2 linked regions of the Homo sapiens genome follow. The protein of the gene in region 1 interacts with the protein of each later gene in a pairwise test. Each region holds a gene or a part of one and is shown in the gene's direction. Other genes may lie near its edges.

Region 1 (3,500 bases):
GTGCTGGGATTACAGGTGTGAGCCACCATGCCTGGCTAGAATAATAACTTTTAAAGGTTCTTAGCATGCTCTGAAATCAACTGCATTAGGTTTATTTATAGTTTTATAGTTATTTTAAATAAAATGCATATTTGTCATATTTCTCTGTATTTTGCTGTTGAGAAAGGAGGTATTCACTAATTTTGAGTAACAAACACTGCTCACAAAGTTTGGATTTTGGCAGTTCTGTTCACGTGCTTCAGCCAAAAAATCCTCTTCTCAAAGTAAGATTGATGAAAGCAATTTAGAAAGTATCTGTTCTGTTTTTATGGCTCTTGCTCTTTGGTGTGGAACTGTGGTGTCACGCCATGCATGGGCCTCAGTTTATGAGTGTTTGTGCTCTGCTCAGCATACAGGATGCAGGAGTTCCTTATGGGGCTGGCTGCAGGCTCAGCAAATCTAGCATGCTTGGGAGGGTCCTCACAGTAATTAGGAGGCAATTAATACTTGCTTCTGGCAGTTTCTTATTCTCCTTCAGATTCCTATCTGGTGTTTCCCTGACTTTATTCATTCATCAGTAAATATTTACTAAACATGTACTATGTGCCTGGCACTGTTATAGGTGCAGGGCTCAGCAGTGAGCAGACAAAGCTCTGCCCTCGTGAAGCTTTCATTCTAATGAAGGACATAGACAGTAAGCAAGATAGATAAGTAAAATATACAGTACGTTAATACGTGGAGGAACTTCAAAGCAGGGAAGGGGATAGGGAAATGTCAGGGTTAATCGAGTGTTAACTTATTTTTATTTTTAAAAAAATTGTTAAGGGCTTTCCAGCAAAACCCAGAAAGCCTGCTAGACAAATTCCAAAAGAGCTGTAGCACTAAGTGTTGACATTTTTATTTTATTTTGTTTTGTTTTGTTTTTTTTGAGACAGTTCTTGCTCTATCAGCCAGGCTGGAGTGCACTAGTGTGATCTTGGCTCACTGCAACCTCTGCCTCTTGGGTTCAAGTGATTCTCATGCCTCAGCCTCCTGTTTAGCTGGGATTATAGACATGCACTGCCATGCCTGGGTAATTTTTTTTTTTTCCCCCGAGACGGAGTCTTGCTCTGTCGCCCAGGCTGGAGTGCAGTGGCGCGATCTCAGCTCACTGCAAGCTCCGCTTCCCGAGTTCACGCCATTCTCCTGCCTCAGTCTCCCAAGTAGCTGGGACTACAGGCGCCTGCCACCACGTCCAGCTAATTTTTTTGTATTTTTAATAGAGACGGGGTTTCACCGTGTTAGCCAGGATGATCTTGATCTCCTGACCTCGTCATCCGCCGACCTTGTGATCCGCCCACCTCGGCCTCCCAAAGTGCTGGGATTACAGGCATGAGCCACTGTGCCCGGCCACGCCTGGGTAATTTTTGTATTTTTAGTAGAGATGGGGTTTTGCCATGATGAGCAGGCTGGTCTCGAACTCCCGGCCTCATGTGATCTGCCTGCCTTGGCCTCCCAAAGTGCTAGGATTACAGGCATGAGCCACCATACCTGGCCAGTGTTGATATTTTAAATACGGTGTTCAGGGAAGGTCCACTGAGAAGACAGCTTTTTTTTTTTTTTTTTTTGGGGTTGGGGGGCAAGGTCTTGCTCTTTAACCCAGGCTGGAATGCAGTATCACTATCGTAGCTCACTTCAGCCTTGAACTCCTGGGCTCAAGTGATCCTCCCACCTCAACCTCACAATGTGTTGGGACTATAGGTGTGAGCCATCACACCTGGCCAGATGATGGCTTTTGAGTAAAGACCTCAAGCGAGTTAAGAGTCTAGTGTAAGGGTGTATGAAGTAGTGGTATTCCAGATGGGGGGAACAGGTCCAAAATCTTCCTGTTTCAGGAATAGCAAGGATGTCATTTTAGTTGGGTGAATTGAGTGAGGGGGACATTTGTAGTAAGAAGTAAGGTCCAAGAGGTCAAGGGAGTGCCATATCAGACCAATACTACTTGCCTTGTAGATGGAATAAAGATATTGGCATTTATGTGAGTGAGATGGGATGTCACTGGAGGATTAGAGCAGAGGAGTAGCATGATCTGAATTTCAATCTTAAGTGAACTCTGGCTGACAACAGAGTGAAGGGGAACACCGGCAAAAGCAGAAACCAGTTAGGAAGCCACTGCAGTGCTCAGATAAGCATGGTGGGTTCTGTCAGGGTACCGGCTGTCGGCTGTGGGCAGTGTGAGGAATGACTGACTGGATTTTGAATGCGGAACCAACTGCACTTGTTGAACTCTGCTAAGTATAACAATTTAGCAGTAGCTTGCGTTATCAGGTTTGTATTCAGCTGCAAGTAACAGAAAATCCTGCTGCAATAGCTTAAACTGGTAACAAGCAAGAGCTTATCAGAAGACAAAAATAAGTCTGGGGAAATTCAACAATAAGTTAAGGAACCCAGGCTCTTTCTTTTTTTTTTTTTTGAAACGGAGTTTCGCTCTTGTCACCCGGGCTGGAGTGCAATGATGTGATCTCAGCTCACTAAAACCTCTACCTCCTGGGTTCAAGTGATTCTTCTGCCTCAGCCTCCCAAGTAACTGGGATTACAGGCGTATACCACCATGCCCAGCTAATTTTTGTGTTTTTAGTAGAGATGGGGTTTCACCATGTTGGCCAGGCTGGTCTCGAACTTCTGACCTCAGGTGATCCACTCGCCTCAGCCTGCCAAAGTGCTGGGATTACAGGTTTGGGCCACTGCACCCGGTCAGAACCCAGGCTCTTTCTTATACTTACCTTGCAAACCCTTGTTCTCATTTTTTCCCTTTGTATTTTTATTGTTGAATTGTAATAGTTCTTTATATATTCTGGATACTGGATTCTTATCAGATAGATGATTTGTAAAAACTCTCCCTTCCTTTGGATTGTCTTTTTACTTTCTTGATAGTGTCTTTTGAAGTGTAAAAGTTTTTAATTTTGATGAAGTCGAGTTTATCTATTTTGTCTTTGGTTGCTGTGCTTCAAGTGTCATATCTAAGAAATCATTGTCTAATCCAAAGTCAAAAAGGTTTACTCCTATGTTTTCTTCTAAGAATTTTAGAGTTTTACATTTAAGTCTGATCCATTTTGAGTTAATTTTTATATATGGTTCAGGTAGAAGTCCAACTTTATTCTTTTCCATGTGGTTATTCAGTTGTCCCAGCACTGTTTGTTGAAGAGACTATTCTTTCCCCATGGAATTATCTTAGTACCCTTGTTGAAAATTAATCGTCCTTAATTGTATAAATTTATTTCTAGACTGTCAGTTCTACCTGTTGGTCTTTATGTCGATCCTGTGCCAGTACCATACAGTCTTGATTACTGAAGTTTGTGTCACAGTTTAAATTCATGAAATGTGAGTTCTCCAACTTTGTTCCTTTTCAAGATTGATTTGGCCATGCTGGGTCCCTTGCATTTCCGTACGAATTGTAGGATCAGCTTGTCAGTTTCAACAAAGAAGCCAAGTAGGATTCTGAGAGGGATTGTGTTGAATCTGTAGATCAACTTGGGGAGTAT
Region 2 (3,500 bases), on another chromosome or scaffold:
AGCCAAGGCAACACAGTGAGACTCTGTCTAAAAAAAAAAAAAATTTAGTATAGTGCCTGGCACACAATAGGTAATTTTTGTACTTACTAGTCTTATTGTTTACTTTTTATTACAGATTTTGAGATCAGGAGTGAGAACGAGGTAAATCCCAAGCAAGAGATTAGTGAAGATGTACAATTTGGGACTACATCTGAAAGACCTGCTGAGAATGCTGAGGAAAATCCTGAAAGTGAAGAGGGCTTTGAAAGCGGAGATAGGTCAGAAAGACAATGGGGAGATTTAACAGCAGAAGAGTGGGTAAGCTATCCTCTCCAACCAGTCACTGATCTACTTGTCCACAAAGAAGTCCACACAGGCATCCGCTATCATATATGTTCTCATTGTGGAAAGGCCTTCAGTCAGATCTCAGACCTTAATCGACATCAGAAGACCCACACTGGAGACAGACCCTATAAATGTTATGAATGTGGAAAAGGCTTCAGTCGCAGCTCACACCTTATTCAGCATCAAAGAACACATACTGGGGAGAGGCCTTATGACTGTAACGAGTGTGGGAAAAGTTTTGGAAGAAGTTCTCACCTGATTCAGCATCAGACAATCCACACTGGAGAGAAGCCTCACAAATGTAATGAGTGTGGAAAAAGTTTCTGCCGTCTCTCTCACCTAATCCAACACCAAAGGACCCACAGTGGTGAGAAACCCTATGAGTGTGAGGAGTGTGGGAAAAGCTTCAGCCGGAGCTCTCACCTAGCTCAGCACCAGAGGACCCACACGGGTGAGAAACCTTATGAATGTAACGAATGTGGCCGAGGCTTCAGTGAGAGATCTGATCTCATCAAACACTATCGAGTCCACACAGGGGAGAGGCCCTACAAGTGTGATGAGTGTGGGAAGAATTTCAGTCAGAACTCCGACCTTGTGCGTCATCGCAGAGCCCACACGGGAGAGAAGCCATACCACTGTAACGAATGTGGGGAAAATTTCAGCCGCATCTCACACTTGGTTCAGCACCAGAGAACTCACACTGGAGAGAAGCCATATGAATGCAATGCTTGTGGGAAAAGCTTCAGCCGGAGCTCTCATCTCATCACACACCAGAAAATTCACACTGGAGAGAAGCCTTATGAGTGTAATGAGTGTTGGCGAAGCTTTGGTGAAAGGTCAGATCTAATTAAACATCAGAGAACCCACACAGGGGAGAAGCCCTACGAGTGTGTGCAGTGTGGGAAAGGTTTCACCCAGAGCTCCAACCTCATCACACATCAAAGAGTTCACACGGGAGAGAAACCTTATGAATGTACCGAATGTGAGAAGAGTTTCAGCAGGAGCTCAGCTCTTATTAAACATAAGAGAGTTCATACGGACTAAGCTGTAATTATGATGGCTGAGAAATGATTCATTTGAAGATACAATTTTATTTGATATCAATGAACGCCCTCAAGACTGAGCTGCTTTTATCATACTCTCCTAGTTGTGGGCCACGATTTAAACCATCAGAGATGACAAGCCATTTGAAATTCTGACCCTCAGCTTTGGGAATGTTATCTCCTCCAAAATGGTGATTTTTATTCACTCAATGGGTTACTTCATTAAAAGCAGCCCCACAAGTAACTGGAAATCTGAAGACCAGGGGACAAATGCTGGTGAATGCTTAGGCCTGGAAATGGAGTAAATCTTTCAATGTTATTTTCTCCCATCCTTGGCCCAAGGAACTATGCTAAGTGAAACGTGGGACTGTAATAGGGTGGTAATGGCTGCTTTGGAAAAAGGCAACTAGAGACTCTGCCTAAATTGCCACACCTATTCACACACCATAGTAGTTGGGCACACACATCTTCCCTTCCAAAGGGCTTTTTCCTTGAGTTGCTCATGCATTTGTATCTTTTCCATCTTCCTGAGGGCAAGATTTTGCACGATGAAGGCAATGATTGTAACTTTTCTCCTTCTCATTGTTTCTAATTAGCTCCTTTAAAGCTTGCATCTTTGTGAAGGCTAACTGAAGATACGGTTGGAAAGGAAAAATGAGACACAGGTTTGGGGACCAAGGACCCATCAATGATGGTGACTTTAGCAGAAGATGCCCACAGTTATTACTGCCATTAATCAGATTTATGAATTTTCTTTGGGGATCACTATAGGGAATATTGTATAGAAAATATCTTCAAGAAAAGATAGGACCATCAGTGACAGTTAAGTGTAAGGAGCAAGTGGAATTGAGTCCTTCAGGGAAGGAACCACAGAGTCCCTTCCCAAGGAATGTAGGTCGTTTCTGTGTTCTTTCCCTTCTAATCTTTAAGATCAACTCTTCCTATCCTGCTAACTCTAAGATTTGATAAGGGCCACATCCCAGTGTTTATCTTAGCTTGCATCAGGGCATGTGTATGTACAGTAATGTGTATTCCTGTGGTTTTTCTAATAGAAACTGAATTTACAGAGACTTAGCATGTTCTTGGGTGATGTGAGTCATGTGACAGAAGTACAGACATAACTCCAATGTGAGAAATGTCCTTTTTTCATTATGGAAAATAATTTAAACACTAGTGCTTTAGTGTGCACTCTCCTGTAAGGTCTGTCTTTGTACAGAGCTAAGCACTTGTTTGTATGTGTTTGTCAATTGTGGAAGATAATGACCAGACAAATAGGTCGATTGTCCTATTCTCAGAATGAATTATCTTCTATGGTAATGAAGAACTCTTTGGCTTAGTCAGAAGGAATTAACGAACCTCGGTAGGAATGTATTTCCATCCTCCCACCCTACAGATATAAGAGGTTAAAATAACAGTTCGCCCAATTTAAGCCCAGTAGTGTCAGTTTTCCTAATCTCAGTCCAGGTAGGAATTAAGAAATATCTCAAGTGTTGATGCTATCCAAGCATGTTGGGGTGGAAGGGAATTGGTGCCCAGAAAATGGGACTGGAGTGAGGAATATCTTTTCTTTTGAGAGTACCCCCAGTTTATTTCTACTGTGCTTTATTGCTACTGTTCTTTATTGTGAATGTTGTAACATTTTAAAAATGTTTTGCCATAGCTTTTTAGGACTTGGTGTTAAAGGAGCCAGTGGTCTCTCTGGGTGGGTACTATAATGAGTTATTGTGACCCACAGCTGTGTGGGACCACATCACTTGTTAATAACACAACCTTTAAAGTAACCCATCTTCCAGGGGGGTTCCTTCATGTTGCCACTCCTTTTTAAGGACAAACTCAGGCAAGGAGCATGTTTTTTTGTTATTTACAAAATCTAGCAGACTGTGGGTATCCATATTTTAATTGTCGGGTGACACATGTTCTTGGTAACTAAACTCAAATATGTCTTTTCTCATATATGTTGCTGATGGTTTTAATAAATGTCAAAGTTCTCCTGTTGCTTCTGTGAGCCACTATGGGTATCAGCTTGGGAGTGGCCATAGATGACCGCATTTCCATGACCTAACTGTATTTCACCCCCTTTTCCTTCCCTACTGTTCTTGCCCCACCCCAACCAGTTCCTGCTGCTGCTTTTGG

What was found. Proteins that work in one complex are often made in the same cells at the same time.
Region 2: the proteins of HTT (region 1) and ZNF436 interact in binary tests that used the Homo sapiens proteins (3 or more experiments, as listed by UniProt).

The regions. Positions count from the first base shown.
Region 1 is NC_000004.12:3,077,681-3,081,180, forward strand, and holds part of HTT (huntingtin), read left to right. Parts: intron 1-3,500.
Region 2 is NC_000001.11:23,359,837-23,363,336, reverse strand, and holds part of ZNF436 (zinc finger protein 436), read left to right. Parts: intron 1-115; coding exon 116-1,368; 3' UTR 1,369-3,500. UniProt on the Homo sapiens protein: May be a transcriptional repressor.